Linked DNA regions of Homo sapiens: regions 1 and 2 are each linked to region 3. Evidence: fine-mapped expression QTL. A gene starts in region 3. Each other region holds a variant in brackets. All regions are shown on one strand. Distances are between the middles of the regions.

What was found. PIP is the estimated chance that this variant, and not a neighbour inherited with it, causes the effect.
Region 1: its variant is the best candidate, but not a certain one, in a credible set for the expression of TSPAN11 in putamen (Braineac2, PIP 0.80).
Region 2: its variant is the best candidate, but not a certain one, in a credible set for the expression of TSPAN11 in prefrontal cortex (ROSMAP, PIP 0.84).

The regions. Positions count from the first base shown.
Region 1 is chr12:30,990,540-30,993,203 of GRCh38, reverse strand. It overlaps TSPAN11 (tetraspanin 11), which reads right to left. Exons shown (of 8, transcript NM_001370302.1): 8 at 1-1,348. The coding sequence ends at 1,289. The region is part of intron 2 of TSPAN11-AS1 (TSPAN11 antisense RNA 1); the gene reads left to right. Among named protein-coding and RNA genes, the nearest start is that of TSPAN11-AS1, 14 kb to the left of the region's middle. The variant T/C (reference allele first, on the strand shown) is at 1,110.
Region 2 is chr12:30,888,026-30,890,689 of GRCh38, reverse strand. No RefSeq gene overlaps it. Among named protein-coding and RNA genes, the nearest start is that of TSPAN11, 37 kb to the left of the region's middle. The variant G/AG (reference allele first, on the strand shown) is at 1,345.
Region 3 is chr12:30,925,631-30,928,294 of GRCh38, reverse strand. TSPAN11 (tetraspanin 11) reads right to left here and starts at 1,547. Exons shown (of 8, transcript NM_001370302.1): 1 at 1,499-1,547. It overlaps LOC124902911 (a long non-coding RNA gene), which reads left to right and starts at 1,606. Exons shown (of 2, transcript XR_007063264.1): 1 at 1,606-2,664.

The sequences.
Region 1 (2,664 bases), 65 kb before region 3:
AGAAGTGCAGGAGCTGGGGAGGGTGGAAGCCAGGTGTGGGGTTCTTGTGTAGTGAATGGGCTGCCCCTTTGTAATAGCCATTTGGGGGGGTCCCTATGGGTGTTGTACAAAAAGCTGCCAGCATGGATACTCTGTATTTTCTAGGATTTTCTTTCTGTTCTCCCTTATTACTGGGGAAAGTTCTTCCTGAAAATTCCGCAAATTCCCTGCTGAACTTAGTGATGCAAGAGAGAACCCAAGGAAAAAGCTCTGTCCACTCTAGGACAGGTGGGAAGGGAAGCAGAGCTGGACCCCCTGGAAGCAGTGTGGTGGTGGCTACGGGGTCAAGGAGAGGGCCCCAGGAAAAGTGAGGTTCAGGCAGATGCCCCTCTATTCAGAGCTGCCCCTTCTCAGCAGCTCCGACTTTGCAGGGTTGCGAGTTGGTCCACTCCAGGAGATGTTTGACACCCATCAACATTAGGTGCTGAAGATGGTCTGAAACCTGGTGTTCCTGAGAATCAGGCCCCGGAACAGGAGATTCCCGAGGGGCGTATCACTAGAGGCCAGGGCTTGGGGCCATGGTCTCCCAGGGAGGTTTCTCCCAGGAAGGCAGCTAGGCAGGTGCAGGGCTCTGCTCCTAGTGCAGCATGTGCTGGTATGGCCACCTTACCCCCTGCTTCCTGCCAGGGCGGCTCTACCCAGCCTGTGGCTGCCCTACCCAGGCCTCCCCACTCCTAGGCCCTTCAGGAAGGAATGAGGCCAGCAGGACATGGCTTTCCAGGTGAGGCAGTGTGGAGAGTGGGCAGGTCAAAGGGCAAGGTCTTCTGGGGGAAATGCCAGCCCTCCCTGCCCCACCCCATGCTTTTTCCAGAAACAGCAAGGTCAGGGCTTCTGGGCATGGGTGGGGGAATCCCGTGCTGAATGCAGGAGTGCCGGGGTTCCTGGGTTTTCTGCCGATTGTTCCAGGTTCAGGAGCTGGGAGGGAGCAGAGAACCCAACCGCCACCCTCCCGTAGTCCACGGGTGCCCCCGTTCCTGGTGAGGGGCTCTGGTTGTCTCCTGAAAGGATCATTTCCCTGCCCAGGATCTGGCCATGGGGGCTCAGAAATGGAGGAGAGGGGGCCGAGGGTC[T/C]CTGCCTGGGTGGGCACAGAAGCTATGGTCTCAGGCACTCGGTGGATTCGCAGGAGCTAGGCACAAAGGAGGGGGCATCTATGGCCCTAGTGGAGCTGGTGCTAACTCTGCAGGCCTTGCAGATGGCATGTGGCCACATGTTGTCTTGAGGGGCAGTTGGAAGAGGAGGTGGTTGGCCATTAGTAAAAATGCCGCTGGAGCCTCTGGTGCAAGCAGCAGGTGAGAACCATCCCGCAGATCTGCCAGGTGGAGAGAGCAGAGGAGCAAAGAGAAATCAGAACTCCTGGAAGCTGCCGGCCCTCAGGGCCCTGGAGCAGTGCTGCTCACTCGAATACCCTGGGGCCTGGGCAAAGGGCAGATTCCTGCTCAAAACTGCTCAAAATGTCAGGGTGGGACCTGAGGTTCTGCATTTCTGACAAGCTCCCAGGTGATGGTGGTGTGCCTGGGGGAACCACATTCTGCCATCTACTATCCAAGAGCAGGGCTTTGCACACTTTAATGGGCATGAATCATCTGGGGACCTCCTTATTACAATTCTTCAGGCCTAGTGGCGGCCTGAGAGTCTGCATTCCTAGCAAGCTCCCAGTTGATGCTGCTGGTCTGTGGTCCTAGATCTTCTCCAGAGATGGCCTGATTTAATTAGGCCCTAAGAGTAATGTTTCCACTCCCTCATCAGAGCTGTCTGAAGTGGACTGTCTCTCTAGGAAAGAGTCTGCCTGTGTTTTGCTGTCCTTAGACTCTAGAGCAAAACTCAGGTCCATCTTCGATGCTCTGGCTGGTGTACAGGAGCCATGGGGGAAACTGAGACTCTGGGAAGAGCCTCCTGAGCTGTCACCCTGTCAGTCAGCATAGAATAAGAGCTGGTGAGCTCACCCTGTCAATCAGTGTAGAATGCAGCACCAAGCTCAGGCCCCAGGCGTCCTGTCTGCCAGCCCTTCTGTCGGTATCCACAGCTGAACAAGGGGCTGGAGCATCTGGTCCAAAGCAGACACAGGCCTGGGAGGATCACCCTGCACACCGCCTTCTCACTTCTCCCACTTCCAGAATGCAGAGGAGCTTTATTCTCCCTCCTTGCTCTTCATGGGCCCTCCTCTGCCTTCTTCCTCCTCTTCCTCTCCTCCCTCCCACCCAAGGATGCATTGAGGGTAATGTGATTATGATCCTGATAATGATGATGACATGTTGTTGGATCTTGGCTCTCTGCACACAGGAGGGGGCACTGGGCTAAAGCAGCCCCATGACTGTCCCGTGATACCTGGGGTGAAGGTGGCTCTCCTAAGTATTGAAACAGTGTCCTGACTTTCCTAGCAGCTGCTGCTGCCCTGACCTTGCCGGTGCAAACCTGGATGCAGGTGGAGCTCTATCCAGTGGGAGGAGAGCAGGCTGGTGGAGATGCGTGTGTCCTGTACTGTCTCTGACAGCTAGCTGGGGGAGGTAGTGTGGAAGGGGCCCATCCTCTTCCCCTCCTTCCTCCTCTCCATCCCTCCCAACCTGGAGGACAGCGTGGAGTGTGAACACTGCTTTCAGCCTGCAGACTTGGTGTTAATCCACCTGG
Region 2 (2,664 bases), 38 kb after region 3:
TGTGAAGGACCTTTTCAAGGAGAACTACAAACCACTTCTCAACGAAATAAAAGAGGACACAAACAAATGGAAGAACATTCCATGCTCACAGGTAGGAAGAATCAATATCGTGAAAATGGCCATACTGCCCAAGGTAATTTATAGATCCAATGCTATCCCCATCAATCTACCACTGACTTTCTTCACAGAATTGGAAAAAACTACTTTAAAGTTCATATGGAACCAAAAAAAGAACCTGTATTGCAAAGACAATCCTAAGCAAAAAGAACAAAGCTGGAGGCATCACGCTACCCAACTTCAAACTATACTACAAGGCTACAGTAACCAAAACAGCATGGTACTGGTACAACAGATATATAGACCAATGAAACAGAACAGAGACCTCAGAAATAACACCACACATCTACAACCATCTGATCTTTGACAAACCTGACAAAAACAAGAAATGGGGAAACTATTCCCTATTTAATAAATGTTGCTGGGGAAACCGGCTAGCCATATGTAGAAAGCTGAAATTGAAAGCCTTCCTTACACCTTATACAAAAATTAATTCAAGATGGACTGAAGACTTAAATCTTAGACCTAAAACCATAACAACCCTAGAAGAAAGCCTAGGCAATACCATTCAGGACATAGGCATGGGCAAGGACTTCATGACTAAAACACCAAAAGCAATGGCAACAAAAGCCAAAATAGACAAATGGGATCTAATTAAACTAAAGAGCTTCTGCACGGCAAAAGAAAGTACCATTGGAGTGAACAGGCAACCTACAGAATGGGAGAAAAGTTTTGCAATCTACCCATCTGACAAAGGGCTAATATCCAGAATCTACAAAGAACTCAAATTTACAAGAAAAAAACAAACAACCCTATCAAGAAGTGGGCAAGGAATATGAACAGACACTTCTCAAAAGAAGACATTTATGCAGCCAACAGACACATCAAAAAATGCTCATCATCTCTGGTCATCAGAGAAATGCAAATCAAAACCACAATGAGATACCATTTCACACCAGTTAGAATGGCAGTCATTAAAAAGTCAGGAAGGCCGGGCGTGGTGGCTTATGCCTGTAATCCCAGCACTTTGGGAGGCTGACATGGGCAGATCACGAGGTCAGGAGATCGAGACCATCCTGGCTAACATGGTGAAACCCCGTCTCTACTAAAAAAACAAAAAAATTGGCTAGGCGTGGTGGCAGGCACCTGTAATCCCAGCTACTTGGGAGGCTGAGGCAGGAGAATGGTGTGAACCTGGGAGGTGGAGCTTGCAGTGGGCCAAGATTGCACCACTGCACTTCAGCCTGGGTGACGGAGTGAGACTCCAACTCAAAAAAAAAAAAAAAA[G/AG]TCAGGAAACAACAGATGCTGGAGAGGATGTGGAGAAATAGGAATGCTTTTACACTGTTGGGAGTATAAATTAGTTCAACCATTGTGGGAGACAGTGTGGCAATTCCTCAAGGATCTAGAACTAGAAATACCATTTGACCCAGCGATTCCGCTACTGGGTATATACCCAAAGAATTATAAATCATGCTACTATAAAGACACATGCATATGTTTATTGTGGCACTATTCACAATAGCAAAGACTTGGAATCAACCCAAATGTCCATCAATGATAGGCTGGATTAAGAAAATGTGGCACATATACACCATGGAATACTATGCCGCCATAAAAAATGATGAGTTCATGTCCTTTGCAGAGACACGGATGAAGCTGGAAACCATTATTCTCAGCAAACTGTCCCAAGGACAGAAAGCCAAACACTGCATGTTTTCACTCATAGGTGGGAACTGAACAATGGGAACACTTGGACACAGGGCAGGGAACATCACACACTGGGGTCTGTTGTGGGGTAGGGGGCTGGGGGAGGGATAACATTAGGAGAAATACCTAATGTAAATGACGAGTTGATGGGTGCAGCAAACCAACATGGCACATGTATACCTGTGTAACAAACCTGCATGTTGTGCACATGTACCCTAGAACTTAAAGTATAATAATAAAAAAAGAAATTACAGATACAGTAAGTATTTAAGGCAAGGATGTTTATTATAGTAATATTTATAATAGTAAAAATAAGTCTTTAAAATTTGCTATTTCAGAATATCTGATAACATGAGAACATATTTGCAGTATTAAAAACAAATAATTATGAAATCTTTTATATAGAAAATTACAGCAAATATAACAAACATCCATATACCCTCCAGCCAAATTTAACAAATGTTGACAGTTTGCCATATTTACTTAAGAATGTTTTAAGAAATAAAAGGTTGCATATATCATTGAGTCCTCTTTTATAGTCTTCCCTTCCCTACTGCTCCATAGATAACTATGGAGTTATCTGAAATTGGTACATACTCTTCTTATTCAGAAGTTATACCTTTACTACATATATTTATCTATATAAAAATATATAGCATTTTAAAATAATTTACAAAATTTTTAATCTCTATCTATGTGTTTTCATTCAACACAATTTCCAAGATTTACTTAGTTTGATATGTGGATAAAATTGTTTTTTATTGCTATGTGTAGTGTTTGAACTACACAAATATATTTAATACACATTTGAAATTGGATTATACCAGTTCAATGATTATCTCTAAATGAACATACTCATCTAAGTACAACCCGGCTGAAGGAATAGAACATTATAGAATG
Region 3 (2,664 bases):
AAAAGAAAAGCAAGTTGGTGGTTATAAATGTCCTGGGCTCATCTGAAGAAAGGCTCTCTGGAAAGTCAAGGTGCTCTAGGCAGACTTAAAGACATCAACGCCAGTTTTCCTCTTGTTCTGCAGCACTCACACAAGAACTATGGGGAATCACACAGGCCTGTACATATTTTACACACGAGTCCAAAGGTGGGTATAAAATTCCTGCTATGCTGAATATAGTGGGAAACAGCACACAAATGCCTCCCTCTGCTACCCACAAACCAAACAGCTCTGGGCCACCTAAGCCCTCGCCAGACCACCAACTTGGCCCCTGTAGGCCAGTAGTGCCCCTTACCCTAGGAGTCTTAACTATCATCAAAGCATTTCCAGGCATTAATTGGAGCCTCCAGTCCCTTGGGAGACAGATGGGGCCAGTGGTTATTAGTCCCATTTTGCACAAAAAGCAACTGAGCCCCAGATGACCTATCTGTCCAGGGAACAATGCTACTGACACAGTGACAACCATTAAGTTCTGATTCAAACCTGTCTCCAGCCTCTAACTGCTGCTTTCCACTGCAATCCAGCTGCCCACAAATTGAACACAGACTATCCACTTTGGCCTAATACCACCCTCATTCTCTTCTTCACGCTCCCCCACACACACCCTATGCCCCAGAGTGCACTTATGAGTTTTTCCAGAAGCTGCCTCTTCTCCTCACCCCCCACCCCCACGCTCACCTCACAATACTTGCCACGAACTGGAGACCTCTGGAACACTTATTCCTCCTGCACACAGCAGCTTAGACTCAAGTTAAGATGCTGTCCCGCCAAGCCCAACTGGGCTGCCTCCCTTTCATACTTTCCACCAATTCACACATGTGCACACTGCACATATGGCTGGTGAAAAGGATACACCCCAGAACCTTCCATGCCTTCTTTCCACACGGAGCCGGCCAACTGCACATGCAGGGATGGGCACGAAAACACAGGTGACAGGGCCTACACAGCCATGTTGTCACAAATACACAGACGTGCCCAGAACATGAGGACATCCCTGCACAGGCAGACAGGCCCTCTGAAAGCAATGTGCACCAGATACAGCATTTTGGTGTAGCCATGAGAGGCAGCTACTCGAATTCAGGGTGGACAAAGAATGACATTTTCAAGAGGAACAGACATGCCCCGGGCACGCTGGACGGCACGAGGCCCTCAGAGGCCCAGAGCTCTCTCCCAAGGCACAAGTGCAGAAAGGCAGACTCATGCGCATAGTTATGGACACCGTGTTGCGTGTCCCATGCAGACACCAATACCTGCTCACATGCCCCGCGAGTGTCCCAGGCATTCCTGCCTCCTCCACTCCTCATCCCCAGCCGGCTTCCCTCTGCCCGCCCGGGGGAAGCTCGGGACAGTCTAGCTCGGGACTGCCGGCGGGGCGGGCAGCGGAGGTGGAGGCGCCTCTCCTGGACCCCCAGCCCCCTCCCGCGGCGCCCCCACTCCTCGGGCGCGCTTCTGCACTTACCCTGCCAGGGGCTCCGGAAGCGGCGAAGGGAGCTGCGCCTAGAGAGACTGAGAGCGGCGGCTCCCGGGGCCGCCCAGCCGCCCACCGCCCGCAGCCAGCGCTCCTCCCTCCCAGCCCGGGAAGGTCAGCGTGTGGGCAGCCCGGCCCGCGCCCCTGCGCCCACTGAGGCTTCCTGCCGGCCCTCTAGTCCCCGCCTGCCCAGCGCTCGGCCGCGACGCCCCGGCGCCGGCTCTCCCAGCCCAGCCGGCAGGACGCGCCCGGGAGCCCCGCACGCGAGCTGCCGGCTCTTTGTTTGGGGGTTTGCCTCTCTGCGATTCAGAGCACGCGGAGGGAATTAAGTCAGAGTCCGAGGCAGCTGTGCGGTTGCCGGGGGGATCCCTAAGGGGGGCGGGGCAAAAGGACGGACTAGTAGGGCGGTGGAGCGGCTTTCAAACTCCCCGCGCTCCGCAGCTCCCCGCTTAGGTCTCCCTGCCCTTTACGTTTGTCGGCCCCTGGGAGAGGTTGGCCTTTGGGGGTTTCCAGGGACCCTAGGGACAAGCCTGTCTGATAAGAGAGAGGTTCTCCATCCCCCTTCCTCACCAGCCCCCATCACTGCCGTGTCCCTCTTAGAGTCCTGTGGAGCATCAGCTTTACATTTCCTGGGCCCCGGGGAGAATCAAGGTCTCTCTAATCTGAAGCAAAAAGGAATAACAGAGAGTAGAGCCCATCTGTTCCTGCTGAGTCCCTGTGAAGGTGCAAAGCTGGCCCTAACGGGACTGGCCCTAACAGTGGGGCATGGATTATCTATTTCCCAAAGTAACAAGGGCCTTGTGCTTATCCAACCGTGTTCTTTTGAAACTTAGCTGCAGTGAGGAAGATTACCCATTTACCAGGTTGCTAGATCAGGGAAGCCACTGGAGGCAGGGGACGCTGACAAAGCCACTGTACCGGGAGCACCAACGTTCTAAATACCCCAGCTGGCTGCTGAGAAGGGCTTCGCGGGGGGCCACACAGGAAGGAGATGATTCCAATAGTCCCGTGAGATGAGGACCTTAACTGGGGGATGAATGCGGAAGCTGCAGCAAAGGAGAGTCTACAGACTGTGTGGTGTAGGAGGAGCACACTGGGGCTGTAACATTGTGGAAGTCTGGAGGAGAACCTGGAGTGATGTGACTGAGTTTAGTGTG